5 separate regions of the Homo sapiens genome follow, and all the other regions are linked to region 1. Evidence: fine-mapped QTL for protein levels in blood plasma. A gene starts in region 1. Each other region holds a variant in brackets. All regions are shown on one strand. Distances are from middle to middle.

Region 1 (5,104 bases):
CTATTCTCAGTTCATCTCTTTGCATCTCAACTTGGAAGGTAAGAACTTAATCAGGATGCACTGAACAATTGGCAGAAACTCATGTGAATGTAACTATCTTGTCCAGTTCCTTAACCTGTGCTAAGTCCAGGCAGGCACCTGAAGAAAAAAAAAAAAAAGCATGAAGGAGGCTTTTGCCCAAATGGCACTATACTTGGGGGATTCTGAGTAGGGCTGAAACAGCCTTTGCAAAAATTATAACTGAGGAAATTATGGCAGTGACAAAGATCAGACCTAAATGACTCAGTCTTTCTTCTAACTTTCATGCTGTCCTTATTCATTCCTGGGCATAGGCCAAACTAACCTTAGAAAGGAATTCAGTTTATGGTTTGACTCAGAAACAAAATCAATAATAGCCCTTTCCCGAAAAGACCCCCTTCTTGCCTGGGTGCCAGTCTGCCTTTGTACGATTAATCTATTAGTTACAACATTAGAAATTATGGTTTAGGGGTCCTGCGGCGTCAGGCTGCAAGAGTCTGAACCTTCCCAAGTTGCTGCTGGGGATAACATCGCTATTGTAAAATCTAACATCCTATTTTGCAGACCCTGCACTGGATGGATCAGCTGACACCACTCAGACCGTGTGTGATCTGGCTCAACCAGTTCTGCGATCCCACCCAGGAACAGAAGACTGCAAGAAAACGTTACTTCAACCCCCCTGTGATCCCATCTGCAACCTGACCAATCAGCACTCCCCAAGTCCCAAGCCCCTATCTGCCAAATTATCTTTAAAAACTCCCAGAGGCAGGGTGCAGTGGTTCAACGCCTGTAATCCCAGCACTTTAGGTGGATCACGAGATCAAGAGATCAAGACCAGCCTGGCCAACATGGTGAAACCCCGTCTCTACTAAAAATACAAAAATTAGCTGGGTGTGGCGGCGCGTGCCTGTAATCCCAGCTACCCAGGAGGCTGAGGCAGGAGAATCGCTTGAACCCGTGAGGCAGAGGTTGCAGTGAGCCAAGACCATGCCACTGCATTTCAGCCTGGGCGACAGAGGGAGACTCCGTCTGAACAAACAAACAAACAAACAACTCCCGGAATGCTTGGGGAGACTGATTTGAGTACTGGAATCCCAGTACTTTAGGAGGCCAAGGTAGGTGGATCATTTGAGGTCAGGAGTTCCAGACCAGCCTGGCCAACATGGTGAAACCCCGTCTCTACTAAAATTAGAAAAATTAGCCGGGTGTGGTGGTGGGCGCCTGTAATCCCAGCACTTTGGGAAGCCAAGGCAGGTGAATTATCTGAGGTCGGGAGTTTAAGGCCAGCCTTAAACTGGCGAAACCCCGCCTCTACTAAAAATACAAAAATTATCTGGGCATGGTGGCATGTGCCTGTAATCCCAGCTACTCGGGAGGCTGAGGCAGGAGAATCGCTTGAACCCGGGAGGCGGAGGTTGCAGTGAGCCGAGATCACGCTATTGCACTCCGGCCTGGGCAACAGAGCGAGACTCCGTCTCAAACAAACAAACAAAGGAACGAAAACCTCCGGTCTCCGGCACGGCAAGCTCTGCGTGAATTACTTTCTCCATTGCAACTCCCCTGTCTTGATAAATGGGCTCTGTCTAAGCAGCGGGCAAGGTGAACTCGTTGGGCTGTTACAGGACCAGTGACAGACCAAGGGCATGCCACTGAAGGAATCCCTAGACGCACCCTTCTGGATGTGAGACAGGCGGATCTCACCCACGCCTGCCAGCAGCTCCTCGGAGAACTGTGTTCCTGGGTCAGCCCTGGCCCAGAGGAGCGCCGGGGACCCGCAGAGTGCTGCTGAAGTCAAGGCTACAACTCACCTAGGATCTGGGGCGCCAGCCCTCCGGTGGGCAGGGCGTTCTCCTCCCCCACCCCCTCCCCGCACGATGACATCAAGTGTTTGGCGTTGAGTTGCTCCATAAAAGCTGCCCGGGGAAGCCAGGAGAGCGAAGGGCGGACGTACTCGCCACGGCACCCAGGCTGCGCGCACGCGGTCCCGGTGTGCAGCTGGAGAGCGAGCGGCCACCGGGAGCCCCCGGCACAGCCCGCGCCCGCCCCGCAGGAGCCCGCGAAGATGCCCCGGCGCAGCCTGCACGCGGCGGCCGTGCTCCTGCTGGTGATCTTAAAGGAACAGCCTTCCAGCCCGGCCCCAGTGAACGGTAAAGTTTCCGCCTGCTTCTTTCCTAACACTCCTGAGCGCTCAGCCGCCCCTGGGCTGAAGGCTCTTCAATGATAAAGTAAAATCATTGCTGCGGGGAGCAGGGAAGGTGTAGTACCAAATAGTAGATTCTCAAGAAAGGATGCTCCGTTTTCCTTTGCTGAGGTTGGGTCGGGAAGCACGTTGCTTTCTAGTGGCGCTTGGCGCAGATTTGGTGTTAAAATGTTTGCGTGTACTCCCGGGCACCGCCAGCTCTGAAGATGTGGCTTGGGAACTTGCTAACCAGGGAGGAGATGCAAAGCCAAGATTTAAAACAGCGTTCCCCTGATCCACGTTTAGAAAGTAGAGACATGACTGTGGCATTCTGATTGGGGTAAGCACAGAGAAAGGTTTGCTGTGCCCCTGTGCAGAACCCGCAGACAGTGGTAGGCGCTTTTCTTTGGAGGAGAGGATCTTTACCATTAAGTCTTACCTACAAGTCAAAGGGATGATGCATCCCATTCTTAATCATTGTTTTTCTCCAGGAGGGCTCTACTATGCTGAATGTACGTGTGTGTGCACGTACACACACACACGCACGCGCGCACGCACACAAACCACACACACACACACACACACACACACAGCATATTTCTGATTGTAATTAGAACACTAAATCCCAAAAGGCTGGAGGCTGAGGGACTGAATGGAGGCTCCGTGGAGTGACAGGAGGAGGTGGCAGAGGGGACCTGAACTGTGGGCTCACGCCGGGCCAGTGAGCTAACACGTGTACAGCCAAGGCTGGTTCATTAATCTTTTGGAATAAGAAAGTGATTTTGGACCGAAAGTGATTTTACTGGCTGAAACTAGATTCTTCCTGGCGAGGCAGTGGTGGTGGGAAATGTGTCCTGCTCAGCAGCATAAAAGCTCTGAGCCTCCTCTCTTGGAGGTCACAGTGCCCATGGGGAAGGGCAGGGGAGCCAGGCTGTGGATAACTCTTAATTAAATTCCAGTCAACTAGCTGGCATGATGTGCTTGATATTATCTCCCTCATCTGGTCAGGGAGAAACAGAAGCGATGTAACAGAAGTTGGGAGAAAGGAGCGATGTAAAAGTGAAAATCAAGTTTTAAAACCACAAACTTTACATGTTTCCTTTTACGAAAGCTGCACTGAGACCAAAGTTTCCCTGGAAATCTCTTTAGTCCTAAGTTGCTCCAAGACCAAAGGGAGAAACAGCCATTAGTTGGCCCTCTTTCCTATAGCTGGTTGCTCCTCTCACTCTGGGGCAGCTCTGCCTCCCTTCTCTCTCTTTTCCTGCCCTTCCCTGTTCTCTTCCCTCCCTCCCCTTCCTTTCTTCCCTACTTTCCCTGCTCTTCCTCTTCCCTCTCCCTTTCCCTCCTCCTTATCTCCTCTCCCAATTCTCCAAGTTGGGACTGGGGAAGTTTGTAGTCAAAACTCCACTTTCGCCTCACTCTGAGGAAGGAGACTGCCTACCCCTGGGTAGAGCACAGCTTTTATTCTGTAAATTCTCATGCAGTTTCCTTGGGTTTTTAACTGCCTTAGAGGACAGGTCAAAGCAAAAATCACTGAGGTGTAGAATGTCAGCATGAACCCAAAGTTGGAGGTGGAGAGGAGTTAAGCTGAGTAATGGGGTCAAAGTGTGATCTGCTCTCTGCCTGGTGCATTTAAACTTCCAGCATTGGAGAATGTTCAAGAACAATGTCAGGGGCCCAGGAGGGAGCATAATAATGTGAAGTCAAGTGTCTTCTGGAGAAACCCTTGGAATTCTTAGTTGCCGTGGCTTTGGGGGGCATTTCAGTGAATTCTGCAGAGCTTGCCCTGCCCAAACCTGGTGTGGAGAGCCAGGCAGTCTTGGGCTACCCAGGAGATGGTTACTCAGGGAAAGTTCTAGCACCCAGCACAGGAAGCAGGCAGGGCCCAGGACCTCTGATATGGATCTTGGTAAATACCATTTTCTCTGGGCATTCCCTCCAGGGGAACCTCCCTGCCCAGTACCAGCTGGGTCTGCAGGTTCTAACAGGTTTCAGGCTGAGCCTCCCAGGTTTCCCAGATGGAACAGATAACCTTCCTTGGGAAGGAAACTATTCCCCTCCAGGAAGGGCCTGCTCCCTCAGGATGCCACTGAGGCCTTGGCCTGGCCTCGCTTGTGGAATCAGTTTAATCCTTTTAAGCCTTCTGTTCTTACAGCTAGAAGTGGGGAACCAGGGGGTGCAATTCCTGAATAAAGCACACTTTCGTGCGCGTGCACACACACACACGCACACATACACACACTTTTAGAGAGACTTCCTGAGGTCAGAGCTGAGCTGGGGCCCTGATCCTCACCCGATGAACCCCCTTGACTCACCATCCTCACTTACAACGCCGCTTCTCCCCAGCCCTCCAGCTCCTGAGCCCCTCCAGACACTGCCATTTATACCCAAAGTGCCGAGTCTGGAGTCCCAAGCCAGCTCACTCACAGAGAGGAGGGCAGGGAATGTTGCTCTGGAGGCTGCTGCCTTTCAACAAGTCCCCAGTCCTATGTCACCACCGCGACCTCACAGTCCCAGATGTCCACTCTATGACTTTTAGCCCTGAGCTTTCCAGAGTGTGATGCTGAGGCCTCATCTGAGGATGAGAACTCCAACAACAGGGAAAACCTTGATTAGCGAGCCCTGGGAGGGTAGCAGAAGATGTAGGGTATAAGGCTATGATTTGAATGTGAGCAGGTACAATGCAAACTGCTGGCAAGGCAGCAGTGCTCAGGCAGCAGATGTGTTTCTAGTGGCCTCCAGGATCACTGGAGTGGCCTGTGCCTCCTCAGGGGAAAAGTAAGGGTGAACTCCTCTGTTATTTGTGGAATTTTACATCCTGGGCCTCCAACTGTTCTGCCTGCTAAGAGGTAATGATCTGGCTTATTATATCTCTAAGGTCTGGGATTACATCTTAATAATGAACCT
Region 2 (5,104 bases), 43 kb after region 1:
TAGAGGAATGTCTTCTGATTGGCTTGCATGTTTTTTTTTCCTAATGAGGCTGTATGTACCTCATTTCCCAACATGCTCATTTGTCTGACGTGGCTTTTGTGAACTCAGAGCTCCTTAAGTTCTGTGTGACATGGATGTTAGTCAAAGCCTTCAGGCTCATATCTGGATCATCAAGAGCACACACGGTACCCTATGCCCCAGGACATTCAAGCCCAACTCCTTAAGCTGAAAACAGGACGTCCTGAGATGCAAGAGGCAGGACCATTACACTAACTCCCAAGAGCCTAGTGATCCATCATAATTGTCCAGTAAAGTGGATCCTTCAGGCAGTGGTGGCAACATACCCACAGCTTTGCCCTTCTGATAGCAATCGTCAATCCTGGCTCAGCCTATCCTGTTCTGTCCCAGTTTAACCTGCCCTGTCTCTGTTGCAGATGGGCTCCTTCAATCCGTCCTATGACAAGATCTTCAGTCACCTTCAACATGTAAAGTACAAAGGTGAGGGGTCCTTGCATGCATATTCACTCTCTGCTGGAGAAGGAGGTAGTCAGCCCTGTGTGACTTTAAGAAAAGCAAACACAAGGGGCAGGTGCTGTCTGTGTTCACCAGGTTAAGAGCAGCAGGTTGTTGAACAATGTTGCAACCAGGTCCTGGGGTTAGATGACCCTGAAAGGGGCTAGTTCATGTTTCTAGGCTCAGTCGCTCTGTTCAGCTGCACTTATGCCCTACGGAGGGAGGCTGACACTATCACCTCTGCAACATGTCTCTCTAGGCCAGGAAGCATTCGTCCCGGGATTCAACATTGAAGAGCTGCTTCCGGAGAGGACCGCTGAATATTACCGCTACCGGGGGTCCCTGACCACACCCCCTTGCAACCCCACTGTGCTCTGGACAGTTTTCCGAAACCCCGTGCAAATTTCCCAGGAGCAGGTAACTGTCGTGCCAGACTCAGCCAGAGTCCACGCGGCACCTCAGTCCCCATCATCCTCCATATCACAATCAATGACTTGATTTCCTCATTTAGTTTCATTGGCAGCTCTTCAAAACCTCTCCAAATATCACAGGTGTCTGAAAGCACCGCAGAAATTCCAGGCTGAGCTTCAAAAGAAGTCAAGCTAGGCAAATGAATAGATGTCTCCTAGTTCTTTTTTAAAAAAAAGAGCTCTAAATCTGCATTTGCTAATATATCCTCAGTGGCTGGGTGGTATTCACTTCCCAGGCAGGAGAGAGCCTGGTTCCTTTACAGGGCAGAATAAAGACAGGATCAGATGAAATCATTTAAGAGATGGGATTGCAGCAATGACTAAGTGAGGGTCCCTGCCCCCAAGAAGCTCAAGGTCTAGTGCAAACTGGGGAACAAAATCCTTAGCCATCACCTCTAAAGCTTCTTATTTGATAGGAGATGAGAGAGAAGAGTAGAAGTCTGTGGGATCACCCGCGGGTTAGTGACAAAGCTGAGACCCAAAGTTAGGTCATCTGAGTTCCATGTCACTGCTCATACCTGTCCTCCACAGCCTAAATTCATGAGAAGAAAAATGGCTCCCCAGGAGACGGGGCTGGGGCCAGCACTACACCCTGGCTCACAGCCCCACGCCAGCTTCATGCGTCCAGGGCAGCCTCACAGCTGCTCCTCTTTACAGTAAGCTTCTGCTCTGAGTCACCTGGTAAATGGCAGCAGGTGGGTGGACAGGAATGAGGACATGATGAACCAAGAGATGGATGAAACATGTGGGGAAGCAGCAACATCCTACCTCAGAAACTGCCTTGGGAAAGGGTTATATAATCTATGCAGGTGCATGAAAATGCCATGGAACCCGCAATCAGATGGCCTGTGAAACTCTTAACTCCCTCCTTTATTCCTTCTGATATGACCATCAGAACAAGCCCTGCGACCCTCTGGTTGAGAGCTGGCCTCTAATTTAAGTTCATGAGAGGAACTCAGTCTCTGTGGAGGTTAAGGAGCACTCCATCACCCCAGGTTTCCCTCCACGCAGGGCAGATTCCAGGTATAATTGGAAACTAACAGCACTGCCTTTCCCTGAAGTCTCGGGTGCTGGGAAGATAAACCCAGCGCTGCCCAGCTCCCACTCACCCACTGTGGAGGGAAGCAGTTCTGTGGCTTTCCCTCTGCTTTCTAATATCTCCCACCCGGCCCCACAGAAGCTGGTTCCAGAGGCTTCTCCCAGGTGCAAGAGCGGAGAGCTAGCCTCTTCCCAGGGGATCAGGTGAGGAGGTCATTCTGCCTGC[G/A]GGCTATTTCTGCTCTTGCCCTCAGCTGCTGGCTTTGGAGACAGCCCTGTACTGCACACACATGGACGACCCTTCCCCCAGAGAAATGATCAACAACTTCCGGCAGGTCCAGAAGTTCGATGAGAGGCTGGTATACACCTCCTTCTCCCAAGGTGAGGAGAGGCAGTGCTGGGGGGAGGGGGTGCGGGAGTGTGGTGCCAAGACATTGGGATCTTCTGTGAATGCAGCTCTGGCACTGATGCCCTCAAGAAGTTGGCTGAGAGCTCCCTGGCTGCCACGGGAACCAGGCGCCTTGTGAGACTAGGTGTGGGGCTCACTGGGGTCCCCCCTTCAGTGAGTCTTTGCAGAGAAGCAAAAAGCCGAGGCCCCCAGGCACATGGACCAGAGCACTCTTTAAGCCTGGGAGTCTTGCACAGATGGGTAAGAGAGAATTCCCTGGGGACTTCTCTGTTCCAGACAATGATCCCTTCTCTAAGACACAGGATAGGACCCTTTCCATGAGATCAGACTTCTAACTTCCCTCCCTAGGCTTTCTTGGCATCAAAGGCTGCAGCCAGCCTATCTTAGGCCTGGCCAGGTGATTCATGCACCACCACCAAATGAGCAAGAATGTTCCTATGTTAGATGTAAAACAGTGAGTGTAACCCACAACCATGTCTAATGTAGCAGGGCCTGTTAGGCAAGGAAGCACCCTTGTGCACTGCATTTTTGTCTAACCTCCTTGGAGCTTGCATAAGCACAAGCACATAAGTTCCCAATTGAACAAAACTTAATAGCTTGGTTTCTTCCTAATGCTACAAGGGCTCGGGTCTCCCTTTCACAGCTGTAACCAATAACTCCCCAGTAGAACATTAACCGTTTTCCTTGCTCAGTGCCTACATCAACACTGCTGGAAACTGGGCATCAGGGGAAAGGGGTGAGGGAGCACTTTTGGGGCCCACACCCCTCTTCAGACCTCTGAGTTCACTTTCAAGCTCACTTTCTTACTGTAGATTCTCGACTGCTTCCCAGCTTGGGAATCTTCATGGCTGGTCTGTGCAGTTCCATTTCATCCCCAGCATCACGTGTGGACCAAACCGGGCCTGGCGTTCATATTTAAAGATAACCCGTTCTCACCTGCAATCCCAGCACTTTGGGAGGCCAAGGCAAGCGGATCACCTGAGGTCAGGAGTTCAAGTCCAGCCTGACCAACATGGTGAAACCCCATCTCTACTAAAAATACAAAAATTAGCCGGGCACGGTGTCTTGCCTCCTTTGGGAGGCCGAGGTGGGTGGATCATGAGGTCAGGATTTCGAGACCAGCCGGACCAACATGGTGAAACCACGTCTCTACTAAAAATACAAAAATTAGCCGGGCGTGGTGGCACATGCCTGTAATCCCAGCTACTCAAGAGGCTGAGGCAGGAGAATCGCTTGAACCCAGGAGGCAGAGGTTGCAATGAGCCGAGATCACACCACTGCACTCTAGCCTGGGTGACAGGGCGAGACTCCGTCTCAAAAAAAAACCAAAAAACAAAAACAAAAGAAACCCGTTAACCCACTTGTCAGAATCTGCTCTCCTCGTCTCACCTGGTGCACTTTTTTGGGTTCCTTTCTTATTATATGAGGTTATAACGATCACCTCCTAAACTTAGTTGAACATATGGAGACTGTATTTGAAGGCCCTTTCCAGGAAGCTTTAGAAACTGACCCATCCTTACGGTCAGGATTACATCATTCTCTGTCTTTTCATGAAGAACTGCCCAAGAATTTGTCTTTTGTGTTTTCTCCTCTCCAGGTACAACTAATTAAGATCATTTCCCTCTTTCCTCAGTTTCTCAGTTGGAAAACAGAATCTGTGAACAGTAGCCTTCCTGAAAATTCAAAATCCATGTGATGATAACTAACAGTTTCTTTTCTAGGAAATGAACTGAGTGCATGGAATGTATCTGTTATGGATACAACGCTGTCTTTTCTCATTCTTCTAAGTGGAGAATGTAGTATCCAAGGGTTAAATGGAACTACTTCAACTCTTAAAACCAAAAACATAAAAACTCTGCCAGGAGATTAGGAACTTTGCCCACATAGATCAGATAGAATTTTGCTCGCGATCCCAGGACCCCATTGCCGGCTCTGTTCTCTGAGCTCACCTATGCACACCCAGGGAAGGGGTGGCACATATTCTCCTTACAGTCAGGAGGCCTAGGTTCAAGGCCTGGCTTTGCTTCCTCCTGGCTGCAGGCTGTGGACAAATCGTGTCCCTTCTTCAGGCCTTGGTTTCCTCAGCCACAAAATGCCAGGTAATCCCAGCTACTCAGGAAGCTGAGGCAGGAGAATCGCTTGAACCCGGGAGGTGGAGGTTGCAGTGAGCCAAGATCATGCCACTGCACTCCAGCCTGGGTGACAGAGTGAGACTCTGTCTCAAAAAAAAAAAAAAAAAAAAAAAAAGCCAGGTTGGATTAGGTGATCTCATGTCCTTTCGGTGCTAATATGTTGTGATGGTTAAGTGGACACTAACAACTGCCAATCCTGACTTTACATTGCAGGGACAGTGTTTGAGGGCAGTTACAGAGGATCAGAAGAAACCGGGCAGGAGCTTGACTCTGACATCCAAAAGTAACCCCCGCTTGTAACGATGGACTATGGCATTGGGGATAATTAGCCATCTTCTTAGACCGGCTTGTGTCTAAGCAGCTGCTTGTAGTGGGGCAGCGTAGGCAGGTTTTTAGCCAAGCGCTTCAGTAGATTCTCCCAGTCTGGATAGGGGAGCTTGAGGGGCCTCTAAGCAGAAGTCTGGAGACCATCTCCCAGCTTAGGACGTCAAGATCAAAGCCCAAATGCAGCGTTGCCACTGCTCTTCCTCCACGGTTTGCCCAGA
Region 3 (5,104 bases), 370 kb before region 1:
TGGCTCACACCTGTAATCCCAGCACTTTGGGAGGCCAAGGCGGGTGGATCGTTTGAGATCATGAGTTCGAGACTAGCTTGACCAACATGGTGAAACCCCGTCTCTACTAAAATTATTTACAAAAATTAGCCGGGCATGATGGCGCGTGCCTATAATCTCATGTACTCAGGGGGCTGAGGCAGGAATTGCTTGAACCTGGTAAGTGGAGGTTATAGTGAAACAAAATTGCACCACTGCACTCTAGCCCAGGTGACAGAGCGAGACTCTGTCTCAAAAAAAAAAAAAAAAAAAAGTAAATAAAAACTGGAATTTCTTTTTGCTAGATTAGCATTTCATTTTCTTATGATCACTTTTTTTTTTACATTTGTAGCCCAGCTAGAACTTTCTATTTGATTATTACTTTCATTAAAATGTATTTTTTTTTCAAATAGGTTTAGAATACATTTTATATGGTTCTTGCCATAATGTACCCTAAGGAATTTATAGGAAGGAAAACTTTATGTCTTGCCATTCTCAGTTATAAGAGGATATTAAGCGTTTTACTTTGTTGTTTCATTCAATCATAACCTGGACAATAACCTGGAAAGATAACATATACATGAAGAATTTGAACTCAGCAACAAAGTTGTGAGCATGAAAAGGCCATTCGTGTTCTCTTAGATTTCTGTATATTCCTTAATCTCTCTGGAGAATCATGCCGTATCCTGCTAAAAGACTTCCTTTGAGGCTCTTTGATAAAACCAGCCTTAAATATTATACTTTGATACTCACAGAAGTATTTTATATTTATGATTCTTTGTTTATAGATTGAAGCTGGACAGTACTGCACTTTTGTCATTTCTACGGATGGCTCTGTTAGAGCTTGCGGGAAAGGCAGCTATGGGAGACTGGGCCTTGGAGACTCCAATAATCAGTCAACTTTAAAAAAGTTAACATTCGAGCCTCACAGATCCATTAAAAAGGTTTCATCTTCTAAAGGATCTGATGGTCACACTTTAGCCTTTACGACAGAAGGAGAAGTCTTCAGTTGGGGAGATGGTGATTATGGGAAACTGGGGCATGGAAATAGTTCAACACAGAAATATCCCAAGCTTATTCAGGGACCTCTACAAGGAAAGGTATGTGCATTCTTTTTGGTTATAAAAATAATTAGATGCATTGGAGTTGTAATTGACAATGTCGTTCAGATTTTGATGTGTTCTTTCTGCAGTTGCCCCTTCAACCCTTTGGCTTAATCTTTTGTATCTCTGCTTTACAGTTTACAGAACACCTTTGTATACATTATTGAATTTTAATTCTTATATTCTTATAATTATTCTTGTAAGGTAGTTATTATCCCTATTTCACAGATAAGCAAACTGAGAGTCATTCATTTAACAAACATTTAGCACTTTTGAAGTGTCAGGCAGTATTTTAGGCATTAGACTTGTAGCAGTGAACAAGACAGATAAGGTCTCTACTTTAATCCTTTAGTCTTCAGGATAGAGATAATAAGTTAACAAGCATATAGAATAATTTCAGATAATATTAAAGAAAAAAATGAGCAATAAAGGTTACCTTGGGCAGGTGTGGTATTAGGTAATGAGGTAGGTCAGAGAGTGCTCTTAGGAGAGGTGGCATCTTAATAGAGACCTGAATGGGGAGGCATTTAGAGTACCTAAGTAATTGCCAAGGACCCACACAAATAATTGGAACCATAAGAAACTGAGCTCATATCTTCTCTTTTTATTAATCTCCCCTCCTCTCTCTTCCTCTCTTTTCTTTCTTTCTTTTTTTGTTAGGTTCTTACTTTGTCACCCAGGCCGGAGTGCAGTGGTGCTATCTCAGCCCACTGCATCTTTGATTTCCTGGGGCTCAGGTGGTCCTCCCAACTCAGCTTTCTGAGTAGCTGGGACTATAGACATGCGCCACCATGCCTGGCTAATTTTCATATTTTTTAAAAGAAACAGGGTTTTGCCATGTTGCCCAGGCTGAACTCGAACTCCTGAGCTCAAACAATCTGCCTGCCTTGGCCTGCCAAAGTGCTGGGATTACAGGCATGTATTTCAGCACTTACTTGAACTCTTAGCCAGTCATCCTTGGCCTGAACACAGCCTCCACAACTGTACCTGGAAATTCCTGGATGGGTTGTGAATATTAGTATCTGTGAAGTCTCTGTGTATAGGATCAAATACGGACTATATGTTTTAACATGTGCATACTCATCGTATTTACTTGTGTGCAATGCAGGTAGTTGTTTGTGTGTCAGCTGGATACAGACATAGTGCTGCTGTCACAGAGGATGGGGAATTATACACATGGGGTGAAGGAGACTTTGGAAGATTAGGTAAGATTTTTTAAAAATGTAAGTTATTCTTCTAGAAAATTAGAAATGATTAAGTTACTGAGAAGCCGTGAGAGCAGATTTACTAGGCCAAAGACT[GTC/C]ATTTATTTTGTTAGTTTAAGCTCAGAGGAAGATAATTTTATATAGATAAGACCTAGATTTTAGTGCTGATATTTAAATGTAATTAAATCTAGCAAGCATTTACTGAGTGTGCCCTATTATGACCAGGCATTGTAGGGTTTCTGGGATAAAAGCAATACCATCATGATCCTGAAGTTTATAATCTAGTGGGTAATGAAAACAAGTCAACATGAGCATGAAACAGGACAACACAAGGTAAGTGCTGTGAGGGGAGCATGAAAAGAATATTCTAATGGTTCACCGAAGTGACTCTATGACCCAGTTTAGGAGCACCTTGGAAGATTGAGAAGATGTTAGAAATGATTGTGTTTTTCATATTGCATTGCATTAAAAAAATCTCAATTCTATTTTAAAGTTGTAACATTTATTATACTTGTGAAGTCAAGGCCTAGAGAAAAAGAGTTAATGTTGTTTCTTTGTTGTTGTGTGTGTTTTATCCAAGGTCATGGTGACAGCAATAGTCGTAACATTCCAACATTAGTAAAAGACATCAGCAATGTAGGAGAGGTTTCTTGTGGCAGTTCACATACTATTGCTCTGTCTAAAGATGGGAGAACTGTATGGTCTTTTGGAGGAGGAGACAATGGTATGTAAAAAATTATTTATCAGTAGCTTTGGCTTTTTTCTTGAGTTTTTTAAAAATTTATTTTTCAGTTATATATGCCTAGTGTAGAATGACTCAAATACAGATGAGCAGAAATTAAAAAATGAACTGAGCTTTTACAAATGTTACTTTAACCATTGTTAACATTTTGGAAATAGACTTCTAAATAAATACACATTTATACAAATATTTACATATATTTCTACTTAGATGTGTTTTTAAAAACCAAAGTATACCTACATGTGTATGTTTTATATAAGTTTATATATGTTTTGACATATATATGTTTTACTCTAATAGTTTTTTTTTTTTTGAGATAGGGTCTTGCTTTGTTACCCAGGCTAGAGTGCAGTGATGCAAACCTGGCTCACTGCAGCCTCAACCTCCTGGGCTCAAGCGATCCTCCTGCCTCAGCCCCCCAAGTAGCTGGGACTACAGGCATGCACCACCATGCCTGACTAAGTTTTGTATTTTTTTTAGAGACAGGATTTTGCTTTATTGCCCAGGCTGGCCTCGAACTTCTGGGCTCAAGTGATCTGCCAGATTTAGTCTCCCAAAGTGCTTGTATTACAGGCATGAACCTCCGTGCCCGGCATGAGTATCTTTTTTATATCAACAAGCATGACTCTACATCATTCTTTTAAATGGCTTGAAGTGTTCTTTTATTTGATGGTGGCACAATTTATAAAACCAGTTTCTTATTGTTGAGTATCTAGATGGTTTCAATTTTTTTCAGTATTAACAACACAATGAATGACTAAATCTATGTCTACTTTAATTAGTCACTCCTACTAGCAGTGTGAATGCTTACTTCCCCATAGTCTTCAACAACAGCATGTATTAAATTTAATTAAATAATTTCAATAGTGAAAATGGTATCATTTAATTTATACTTTTTTTTATTCCTGGTGTGGTTGGATTTGTAGATGATTGGCCATTTGTTTTTCTTCTTTAATGATTTGTCCAGTTTTCAATTTCATGAGCTATTGATTTTTTAAAAAGTTTATGAAAAATTATATGCATATACATTCTTTTTTAAAGTTTATGAAAAATTATACGCATATAGTACCTGTATATTTTGTCAGCAAATTTGAAGTTAGAAATATAGCCATTAAAGGGGGAGAAAGACAGAAAAATAATTGTCTATGTTTCTTTTAAAGTGATTTTAAATTGCTTGATTTTAATTGCTTGAAATTAAGATATAAAAGGCTATCAGTGGTTGTTAACTTTCTTGTAATAAAAATGCTCGTTTGTTAACATCCTCAGCTATCAGAAACATAGCTTTTCATATCTGCCAGGTTAGTGATGGAAACATTAGAGCTCCTTATCAACTTTAGTAGTGTTAAAAAGAGTAGAGGTTCTTTAAAACAAGTAAATTGTTTAATGTGTTTGTTTTTATAGGTAAACTTGGTCATGGTGATACCAACAGAGTGTATAAACCTAAAGTTATTGAAGCTTTACAAGGAATGTTCATTCGCAAAGTTTGTGCTGGGAGCCAGTCTTCACTTGCTTTGACATCAACAGGGCAGGTAGGACTAAGGGATGAGTATAAAAGACTTAGAGTATTTCAGAGGATTAGGTGACTAAAAAGTAATACTTGTATTTAAATTTTAAAGTTCAAATAAATACATTTTTAGGCAACATGCTAAAATGAAATATCTTCTTCTGTTTGAAGTAGAGTATCTGAGAAGGAACCAGGTTTTCTAACCTGGCATATGTGACCCAGATAAATCTTAGTGGAGCCTCTGTTCTTTGTATTAAACTGACTTTCTAAAATGTTTTAGCATTTAGCTTCCCTTAAACCTTTTCTAAAACATTATGGATAGTCGGGGAAAGCTGAACTAGATCTTGATGGAGCCAGTGATATGAACTAAGAAGGCAAGAGGGTGATCAAAAAGGAGGGTAAAGAGAACACTTAGGTATGGAAAATATTCTGAGAGAGTTAGGTGTTTCTGAGAAACAGTGTGAAGTCAAGCTTAGGATAGTCAGAATTTTATGAGCCTTTATAAAGGCTCATAAGCTTTGTACTTTTATAG
Region 4 (5,104 bases), 57 kb after region 1:
GTTTGAAGAGGGGGGTGACAACGAGACCTCTTTCAAAATATAGGTCTACTACTGTTAGGTGTGAAAGAGAACAGTTGGAAAACGAACAAGTTCTGTTTTTGTTAAAGCTTTATTTGGTGACACTCCCTCCCAAGACCAACAGAATTGGGGAAAGGTCCCAAAGAGAGGAATCCAACTTTTAAAAACGGCCTCATTCCATACCTGAGTCAGGCTGCTCTCTGGCTCGCTCGCTCTCCTCTCTAACAAGAGTTATGTGTTCTTTCTGTTCTAGTATCAAAAAAGGTGATAACAAGGGAGTCATTTACAAGCCAGCCACCAAGATGGAGACTGAGGCCCACGCTTGAGGTCCCCGGAGCTCCCGGGCACATCCAGGAAGGACCTTGCTTTGGACCCTACACACTTCGGCTCTCTGGACACTTGCGACACCTCAAGGTGTTCTCTGTAGCTCAATCTGCAAACATGCCAGGCCTCAGGGATCCTCTGCTGGGTGCCTCCTTGCCTTGGGACCATGGCCACCCCAGAGCCATCCGATCGATGGATGGGATGCACTCTCAGACCAAGCAGCAGGAATTCAAAGCTGCTTGCTGTAACTGTGTGAGATTGTGAAGTGGTCTGAATTCTGGAATCACAAACCAAGCCATGCTGGTGGGCCATTAATGGTTGGAAAACACTTTCATCCGGGGCTTTGCCAGAGCGTGCTTTCAAGTGTCCTGGAAATTCTGCTGCTTCTCCAAGCTTTCAGACAAGAATGTGCACTCTCTGCTTAGGTTTTGCTTGGGAAACTCAACTTCTTTCCTCTGGAGACGGGGCATCTCCCTCTGATTTCCTTCTGCTATGACAAAACCTTTAATCTGCACCTTACAACTCGGGGACAAATGGGGACAGGAAGGATCAAGTTGTAGAGAGAAAAAGAAAACAAGAGATATACATTGTGATATATTAGGGACACTTTCACAGTCCTGTCCTCTGGATCACAGACACTGCACAGACCTTAGGGAATGGCAGGTTCAAGTTCCACTTCTTGGTGGGGATGAGAAGGGAGAGAGAGCTAGAGGGACAAAGAGAATGAGAAGACATGGATGATCTGGGAGAGTCTCACTTTGGAATCAGAATTGGAATCACATTCTGTTTATCAAGCCATAATGTAAGGACAGAATAATACAATATTAAGTCCAAATCCAACCTCCTGTCAGTGGAGCAGTTATGTTTTATACTCTACAGATTTTACAAATAATGAGGCTGTTCCTTGAAAATGTGTTGTTGCTGTGTCCTGGAGGAGACATGAGTTCCGAGATGACCCAATCTGCCTTTGAATCTGGAGGAAATAGGCAGAAACAAAATGACTGTAGAACTTATTCTCTGTAGGCCAAATTTCATTTCAGCCACTTCTGCAGGATCCCTACTGCCAACCTGGAATGGAGACTTTTATCTACTTCTCTCTCTCTGAAGATGTCAAATCGTGGTTTAGATCAAATATATTTCAAGCTATAAAAGCAGGAGGTTATCTGTGCAGGGGGCTGGCATCATGTATTTAGGGGCAAGTAATAATGGAATGCTACTAAGATACTCCATATTCTTCCCCGAATCACACAGACAGTTTCTGACAGGCGCAACTCCTCCATTTTCCTCCCGCAGGTGAGAACCCTGTGGAGATGAGTCAGTGCCATGACTGAGAAGGAACCGACCCCTAGTTGAGAGCACCTTGCAGTTCCCCGAGAACTTTCTGATTCACAGTCTCATTTTGACAGCATGAAATGTCCTCTTGAAGCATAGCTTTTTAAATATCTTTTTCCTTCTACTCCTCCCTCTGACTCTAAGAATTCTCTCTTCTGGAATCGCTTGAACCCAGGAGGCGGAGGTTGCAGTAAGCCAAGGTCATGCCACTGCACTCTAGCCTGGGTGACAGAGCGAGACTCCATCTCAAAAAAAAAAAAAAAAAAATTATTCTGTACCATCACAACTTTTCACAACGATGGCAAGCCTTATGTCTTGGGAGCCTGTTTTGCTAGGCAAAGTTACAAGTGACCTAATGGGAGCTCAAATGTGTGTGTGTCTCTCTGTGTGTTTGTGTGTGTGTGTGCACTCAAGACCTCTAACAGCCTCGAAGCCTGGGGTGGCATCCCGGCCTTGCCATTAGCATGCCTCATGCATCATCAGATGACAAGGACAACCCTCATGACGAAGCAACATGAATTAGGGGGCCTCTTGGCCTTGGTCCAAAATTGTCAATCAGAAATGAACATAAAGGACTCCAGAGCAGTGGGACTGTCTGTCAAAAGACTCTGTATATCTTTTGTGGATGAGTTTTGTGAGAGAACAGAGAGACCATTGTACCTGGCACAAGGGCTGTTCATGAAAAGGGAGACTTACTGGGAGGTGCAAGACAGTGGCATTTCTCCTCTCCTCTTGCTGCTCAGCACAGCCCTGGATTGCAGCCCCGAGGCTGAGACCAGACAAAGCCCGGGAGGCAGAAAGATGCTCCAAGAACCAACACTATCAATGTCTTTGCAAATCCTCACAGGATTCCTGTGGGTCCAGCTTTGGAACTGGGAAACCTTTCTTCGGATCCGCACTCATTCCACTGATGCCAGCTGCCCCTGAAGGATGCCAGTACTGTGGTGTGTGAGTCTCAGCAGCCGCCCACACGCTCCTAACTCTGCTGCATGGCAGATGCCTAGGTGGAAATAGCAAAAACAAGGCCCAGGCTGGGGCCAGGGCCAGAGGGGAAGGCCCTGGATTCTCACTCATGTGAGATCTTGAATCTCTTTCTTTGTTCTGTTTGTTTAGTTAGTATCATCTGGTAAAATAGTTAAAAAACAACAAAAAACTCTGTATCTGTTTCTAGCATGTGCTGCATTGACTCTATTAATCACATTTCAAATTCACCCTACATTCCTCTCCTCTTCACTAGCCTCTCTGAAGGTGTCCTGGCCAGCCCTGGAGAAGCACTGGTGTCTGCAGCACCCCTCAGTTCCTGTGCCTCAGCCCACAGGCCACTGTGATAATGGTCTGTTTAGCACTTCTGTATTTATTGTAAGAATGATTATAATGAAGATACACACT[G/A]TAACTACAAGAAATTATAAATGTTTTTCACATCAGGCTGTTCTTTTTTTTTTTTTGGAGGCGAGGTTAAAGCATTACTATTTGCAAAGCACTCTGTAGCTCCCTGTTATGGGGATAGGTAACTAATCAGAATAATAATGTCACTCGCATCCACTTCTTAGAACCTGGCTCCAAAGGAAAATAAGCTGATAGACTCAATCACTTTCCTGAGGATGGAGGCCTATGGCATGTGTGGCTGCAGGTCGCGAAGCTGCTTAATGGTGCTGGGAAGCCTAGAGGAATTAAATAAAGACCCTGGAGGAGGTGGGATCGGAGCTGCACCTTGAACAAATAGCTCAGATTTGAACAGATGGATGGAAAAGAGGGAGGTGTTCCCAACCAAGGGGACATGATACAGGGAACAGGTCCTATGTCTCTTTACTCCTGAGAGTATTAAACCTAGTAGGTGGGCAGCCCCTCTTGGTTGCCTGTTACCTTATTTTGAATTCTTTTTGCAAAACATACTATCACCCGTCCAAATAATCTTTTGTCTAAATCCAGACTTCACATTCTGACTGGGGCAAAAAGAGGCAGTCCAGTAAAGGTTATAAAATAGGTACCATCATTGTTTGCCTTATTTAGAAAAGCATCCAATTTTCACTATAATCACCCTAAGCCTGAGAGAGGTGAACTGTTCAAGGGTACTTTGGCTCCAGTGGGTGACAGTACCTGGCCCAGCTTTGGAATTGAAACATTTCTGATGGTCTGTACTCTGCTAGAACACAGGATGCTTCTGCTCTCCCTGCTCTGGCATCCTGCCAGGTGTCATGGCCACGCACAGGCATGAAGACAGCCGGGAAGCCAGAGTTCCCACGAAGCACTCACTCCTTGGACTTGCTCCCACCCCACTGGGGAGAGCACTCCTGGAGCAGGAAATGAGCATCTCTCATCTCCCTGAATTCCACATCCACTGGCTGAATGATCAGGGAGGCATAGCAGTGAGAGCCATAGGTCGGCAGAGGGAACTCAGGCCCTCCTTTAGGATGGCCATCACCTCATCTCAATCCAGCCAAATCAACCATCTAGAGCACACAGGCCGAGAGAAATGTAATAAAATATAACATGAGACACGTATGAAATTTAAACTTTCCGGTAGCCACACTAGAAAAAGGTAAAAAAAAAAAAACCAGTGACATTAATTTAAATTTAATTTTAGATAATCCAACAGATCTAAAATACTATCATTTCCACATGTAACCAGTATTTTCATGTGTTTTTTTCTGCAGTAAATCTTTGAAATCTGGTGTGTGTTTTACACTGACAGCACACTCGATTCAGATGCTAGATTTTCCTTGTAGATATTTGGTCGTTATTTAGATTTCATAAAATTTACAGTTTAAAAGATTCCAATATCCGAGTTGCTCCAAACACACTTAGAAGTTGTTTTCCAAATAATGGAATCAATGATCGGCTTTTAGATGTAAACTTATTAAAATAAAGTAGCGTTTCTCAGTTAAGTCACATTCCAAGCGCTCAAGATCCATGCCCTGCGCAGACCCGGACGACGAACCCGACTTTCAGAGACTGAGGGTTCTGCCTAGAGAGCTCCCACAGAAATCAGCCCGAGAAGAAAGCCTTGTGGGTGAAGCCAGGGAGGGAGACAGGAGGGCAGGAGGAAAATCAAGCCTAAATGAGCACATCGTGGACGCCGCTCTTCCTCTCCCCACATCTCCTCGCCTCGCCGCAGTGGGCCCGGCTGTGCCCCAGGTCCCCGCGGTCGGGAGTGAATGGCGCTCGGGTGGCAGGCACGTGGGCACCTGGTGAACTGCAGGACCCTGGCACCGCCACCCCCTCGCCCCTACACACACAGGAGTGCCCCTCCCGTTGTCACGTGGCCTTCCTGCTGGGTATCTGGAGCAGTTGCAGCCTCGCTTCCGGAAGGAAACGGGGCCTCTGGGGCACAGGGACCACCTGCCAGTGCGTTCCAGCCGGGCTGCCATCCACACTGGAGACCGCCCCGCACGTGGTCCTCGGGCTCGGATTCAGCTGTCGCAGGATGTGA
Region 5 (5,104 bases), 67 kb after region 1:
CTGAGTCATGCAAAAACTGCCTTCCATTTTGTTTCTAAATAGCTAGCTGCAAAAATAGAGGGCCAAGTCCCTCCCCAGGAAGAGCCCCCCTCCACATAATTTGCTTACAAGGAAATTCCTTGTAGGCCCCAAGATATTTACCCTGAAACAATTCTGTTGGATTTCCCCCGACAATGTAAATTAACAGCATATCTTCACAGGTATGGGAGAAAGACAGAAGTCATCCCTTCACTCACCTGAGACAAATGCATATTTGACTGCTTCCTCTACTCGGTGTTTATCTTACAGAAAAATGCAGATTCTCGGAGCACAAGATGAATGCATAATTGACTGTTCCTCTACCCCCTCCTTTCATGAGTAAAATGCAGACTTAGTGAGCACGAATCAAAGCCTAATCAAAGTCTTGAGATAATGTAACCTCTTGCCTTTTTTATCTACTTTCCTTTTTTTTTTTTTTTTTTTTTTTTTTTTTTGAGATGGAGTCTCACTCTGTCACTCAGGCTAGAGTGCAGTGGTGCGATCTCGGCTCACTGCAACCTCCACTTCCCGGGTTCAAGCGATTCTCCTGCCTCAGCCTCCCGAGTAGCTGGGACTACAGGTGCGTGCCCACCACGCCCAGCTAATTTTTTGTATTTTTAGTAGAGATGGGCTTTCACCGTTATTAGCCAGGATGGTCTCGATCTCCTGACCTCGTGATCTGCCCGCCTCGGCCTCCCAAAGTGCTGGGATTGCGGGCGTGACTGTGCCCAGCCCCCCTCCTCCCTTTTCTTTCTTTCCTCTTTCCCCTATGGTCTCTTCTTTCCCTTTAAATATTGAAGTCCTAAAACCCTCTTTGGAAAAAGCATGGATCACAGACTTCCTGTGATTTGTGTTCCTTTTTCCTAGGTGCATCCTCGACCTTGACAAAATAAACCTCTCAATTGAGGCTTGCCTCGGTCTTTTTCTTTGGTTTACAGGTGGGAGACAGAAAAAAGTGGTTGGGATCAGATTACAAAAGACCTTGAATAATATCCACTTTCTACCAAGGACAAAGAGAAATCATGAAAGTGCTTAGATTATGGTTTTGTCTGATTACATAAATAATGCATGCCTATTTTTTTGAAAAATGCAAATAATTGTGTATAAAGCAGAAAGTCCCCCCATAATCCTAGCTCCCAAAATAGTCACTTTTAACAATTTAGTGTTAGGCTAAACAATTATCTTTAGCTAACAATTTATTTTCCAGACATTATGTATATTCATATGTATTTTTATACTCATTTTTAAATTTTTAATAAAATGTATTAATAGGATTCTATATTATATGCTGTACAAGGCCCAGCATCATGCCTATTTTCATTCTTAAATTTTCAGTATCTAGCACAATGTCTGGCATAAGAAATACTTGTTGGATGAAAGAATTATCTTTTATTCTTGCTTTTGTTTTCTAGCACATCCTGGATATCCTCATTCTTTTCAGTGGCTATACAATGTCCTGCTGCTTGATGCAATGCCCTATTGATAGGCACTTGCTGCAAATTCCTTACTGTTACAAGACTATTACAAGATCCATGTGTACTTGGATGTATTTCTGTGATACTGTGAAATATATATTTGATCTTCATCTCTGTTTCCTGGCAAACAATTCCTAAAACCTTAGAATCTCCAAAGAGATGTCTTTTTGTACATGATGACTGACTGAAAGCTAGCAGTCCCTAGGCAGCTTCAGGATGGGGCTGGTCTCCAGAAAGCCCATGGCAGGATTACAGGGTTGGGTCTTTGATTACTACCCCTAACCTCTCGGAAGGAGAGGAGGCTCAAGATTAAGTTGACAGCCAATGGCCAAAGGTTTAATCAATCATGCCTATGTAATGAAGTCTCCATAAAAGATTCAAGAGGACAGAGTTTGGGAAGCTTCTCAATAGTGGACCGTGTGGAGGTTCTTGGAGGGTGGCACACCAGAGAGGACATGAAAGCTCTGTGTCGCTTCCACCACACCTCGCCTTATGAATCTCTGCATCTGTATCTCGCTTCCACCACACCTCGCCTTATGAATCTCTGCATCTGTATCCTTTATAATACACTTTATAATAAACCAGCAAATGTGTTTCCCTGAGTTCTGTGAGCCACTCCAGCAAATTAATTGAACCCCAAAGCAGGGTTGTGGGAACCCCAACTTGAAGTTGGTCAGTCTGAAGTTCAGGAGGCCTGGATATGCAACTGGTGTCTGAAGGGAGCGTGGTTTTGGGGACTGAGCCCTGAACCTGTGGGATCTGATGCTATCTCCAGGCAGACAGTGTTGGAATTGAATTAGAGGACACCCAGCCGGTGTCTGCAGCAGAACTGATTGCTTGCTTGTTCAGAGAATAGAAAAAACTGTGAGTTTGTGGTCTTTTTCCTCTGACACACCATTTCTATGGGACAAATTCCTAGAAGAGGAATTTGCTGGTTCAAAATATGCACATCTCAAAACTGCATAAATGTAACAGATTCTGCTAAATTACCACCCGAGGGTTGTACTAATATCCTTTTTCATAATATGTCGTTTCTACCATATGCTCAACAATCCTTGTTATTATCAATCCTTTTCACCCTTGATAATCTGATAGTCCAAAATTATTT[T/G]CTTGTTTTGCTTTTATTATTCGTGGTTTAGCATTTTGTTTTATGTTTATTGACTGTTTGCATTTTTTCTGTGAATTATCTGTTTATATGCTTTGATCTCTTTTTACTGTATCATTAATTTTTTTAATTATAGAAGCTTTTTATATATTATAGGTGACAATTCTATATATGTCAAAAATATTTCTCCCCGTCTTCTTTGTTTAGAATGTCTTTTGCACTGCAGTTTTAAAGTTGTATGTAGTCAAATCTGTTTTCTTTCCTCTTTGTAGTTTGTAGCCTAAGTGAAATGTAGAGAAAAGCTCTCCTCCTTTAGACTATAAAACTATTCTAATTTTAAAAGATTCTTTTATGGTTTTATTTTTTGCATTTGAATCTTTAATATGTTTAAATAAGTGAAAGTAAAAACTTAGCTTTGCTTTTTTTTCCCAAATATAATCAAATAAATGATCAAACAGACCCATTTATTGAATAACATATGCTTTCCCCACTGACTTAAAATGCCAATTTTACCATAAATGAAATTCCCATATATACCCGGGCCTGTTCTGAAACTCTACATTCATATCCATGAGTGCAGATTTGTGATATATGTTGGTATCTAGTAGGATAAACAGAAACATTTCACACAACTTTATTCCCTGCGAGTGGCACTGTTATCAATCCGATCTAGATTAGGTAAATTAACAGGACACAAGTTCAGTTATCCCTTTGATAAATTATCAAAAAATTTAAATATTGGCATACCAGGTATTCTTTCATAGTGTGTATATAGCCATTTAATATGGAGAATTGAAATTTCAATCATGACATTTTGTTTAGTTGTTACAGAACAAAAAGTTATGTGTAATAGTGATTCTATATTGCCTATAAACATGTACATTTTAATAATTGTTTTCTTTATAAAAACTACAAATTCAACGTATTTAATAGATACAGAGGATGTCCAGTTAGCTCTAACATATAAAGAGCTTGGAAGCCATCACTCCCATCCTTACAAGAAAAAGCTAAGCAAATGGAAAAATCAACAATTCTTTTGAACCCATCAGAGAACTGAGGTCTCAGGGTAAACCACCACTCCAAAATCTGGAGAGAGAGGTGAATCCAGAGTCACAGCTGAGATTTGCTTACCTGGAGTGCAAGCTGCTGGAGCCATAAACTGGTAGTAACACTTAAATGCTAATGTTGACAAATTGCTGGAGTCTGAGTATGGACTAGTGTAAGGGTGAGAAATACTGTCTTCATTGTAAAATACATCCAGAGTGTTTTCCACAACAAAAGCCTCTCTCCAAGGAAAAAGACTTTACCAAAGCCGTAACCCAGCTGGGGAAAGTTACCTTTCTTCTCCAGCCACCTTCTAGCTTCCTGTCTTATCTAAGGGGGAAAAAGTTAAGAAACTCTCAGCCCAGGGATTCAGGCCCATGAAAATACTGAGATTTAGATTTTATTATTATAATTTTATTATTATACATGTCCCCTCCTCCACATCGCACTGCCATACCAACAGGGCTCTAGTGTTAATTTACAGTGGATTACAGCTGAACGAGTTGCAAGACACAGGCTTTCTCTGAAAAGGGGCACTGAGGGAACTCCACAGTCAAAAGGGGAGACAAAAACAAGACCACCAGAGGAATTCGAAGCCTCTGGCACTAACAGCCACAGCAAACATTAAATATAATCCAACTCCTACCTAGATTAACATAAAATTTACACTCAAGGCTTTTAAAATTCAGTTCCTATTACCCAAGAGGCGATGTCTAGCTTTCAACAAATAATTACAAGGCATATTAAGAGGCAAGAAAAAACAAAGTCTGCAGACATAGAAGGATATGCAGATTTTCTTTTCTTTTTTTTTTTTTTTTTTTGAGACGGAGTTTCACTCTTGTTGCCCAGGCTGCAGTGCAATGGTGTTATCTCAGCTCACCGCAACCTCCGCCTTCTGGGTTCAAGTGATTCTTCTGCCTCAACCTCCCAAGTAGCTGGGATTACAGGTGCCCATCACCACGCCTGGTTTATTTTTTGTATTTTTAGTAGAGATGGGGTTTCACTATGTTGGCCAGGCTGGTTTCAAACTCCTGACCTCAGGTGATCCACCCACCTCGGCCTCTCGAGTGAATTTTGTGGGTTTTTTTAAAAAAGGAATTTGTCCATTTACGTTTTAAAATTTATTGGCATTAAAGTTATCCATACTATCCTTTATTAATTTAATAATGTAGGGCCTATAGTGACGTCTCCTGTCATTACTGATACTTGTGCCTTCTCTTTTTTCCATCTGGCCAGAGCTTTACCAGCTTTATTGGTTTTTTTCAAAGAACCAGATTTTTGTTTCATTTTTCCCCATTGTTTTACTGCTATTTATTTGGTTCCTGTTCTTTTATGATTTCATTTCTTCTCCTTATATTAGCTTTAGTTTGCTCTTCTTTATCGAGTTTCTTAAGTAGAGGCTTAGGTCATTGATTTTGAATATTTTTCCTTACCTAATATAAGCATTTAACGTTAAGAATTT

Which allele goes with the higher level. Positions count from the first base shown, and alleles are read on the strand shown. Strength reflects both the effect of a copy and how common the allele is.
As copies of G replace A in region 2, the plasma level of the protein whose gene starts at base 1,955 in region 1 goes up (moderate association).
For the plasma level of the protein whose gene starts at base 1,955 in region 1, allele C in region 3 goes with a lower level than allele GTC (moderate association).
For the plasma level of the protein whose gene starts at base 1,955 in region 1, G is the low allele of the variant in region 4 and A is the other (moderate association).
In carriers of allele G in region 5, the plasma level of the protein whose gene starts at base 1,955 in region 1 tends to be higher than with T alone (moderate association).

Evidence for each region. PIP is the posterior inclusion probability: the model's chance that the variant is causal. Protein levels are from antibody-based Olink assays in UK Biobank. Linkage for the fine-mapping came from a reference panel and not from the study's own genotypes, which makes the PIPs less certain.
Region 2: its variant is fine-mapped to the plasma level of the CA12 protein (UK Biobank, PIP above 0.99).
Region 3: its variant is fine-mapped to the plasma level of the CA12 protein (UK Biobank, PIP above 0.99).
Region 4: its variant is fine-mapped to the plasma level of the CA12 protein (UK Biobank, PIP above 0.99).
Region 5: its variant is fine-mapped to the plasma level of the CA12 protein (UK Biobank, PIP above 0.99).

The regions. Positions count from the first base shown.
Region 1 is chr15:63,378,697-63,383,800 of GRCh38, reverse strand. It overlaps CA12 (carbonic anhydrase 12), which reads left to right and starts at 1,955. Exons shown (of 11, transcript NM_001218.5): 1 at 1,955-2,165. The coding sequence starts at 2,081. RefSeq lists enhancers at 1,231-1,750, 1,751-2,271.
Region 2 is chr15:63,336,114-63,341,217 of GRCh38, reverse strand. It overlaps CA12 (carbonic anhydrase 12), which reads left to right. Exons shown (of 11, transcript NM_001218.5): 6 at 435-498; 7 at 773-930; 8 at 2,273-2,399. The region is part of intron 1 of LOC124903506 (a long non-coding RNA gene); the gene reads right to left. Among named protein-coding and RNA genes, the nearest start is that of CA12, 43 kb to the left of the region's middle. RefSeq lists an enhancer at 2,093-2,989. The variant G/A (reference allele first, on the strand shown) is at 2,248.
Region 3 is chr15:63,752,451-63,757,554 of GRCh38, reverse strand. HERC1 (HECT and RLD domain containing E3 ubiquitin protein ligase family member 1) reads left to right here. Exons shown (of 78, transcript NM_003922.4): 5 at 807-1,118; 6 at 2,230-2,326; 7 at 2,907-3,050; 8 at 4,470-4,597. Among named protein-coding and RNA genes, the nearest start is that of HERC1, 79 kb to the left of the region's middle. The variant GTC/C (reference allele first, on the strand shown) is at 2,423.
Region 4 is chr15:63,321,525-63,326,628 of GRCh38, reverse strand. It overlaps CA12 (carbonic anhydrase 12), which reads left to right. Exons shown (of 11, transcript NM_001218.5): 11 at 272-5,104. The coding sequence ends at 344. All of the region lies in intron 1 of LOC124903506 (a long non-coding RNA gene), which reads right to left. LOC124903505 (a long non-coding RNA gene) reads right to left here. Exons shown (of 2, transcript XR_007064675.1): 2 at 4,233-5,104. Among named protein-coding and RNA genes, the nearest start is that of APH1B, 46 kb to the right of the region's middle. The variant G/A (reference allele first, on the strand shown) is at 3,064.
Region 5 is chr15:63,311,253-63,316,356 of GRCh38, reverse strand. No RefSeq gene overlaps it. Among named protein-coding and RNA genes, the nearest start is that of APH1B, 36 kb to the right of the region's middle. The variant T/G (reference allele first, on the strand shown) is at 2,602.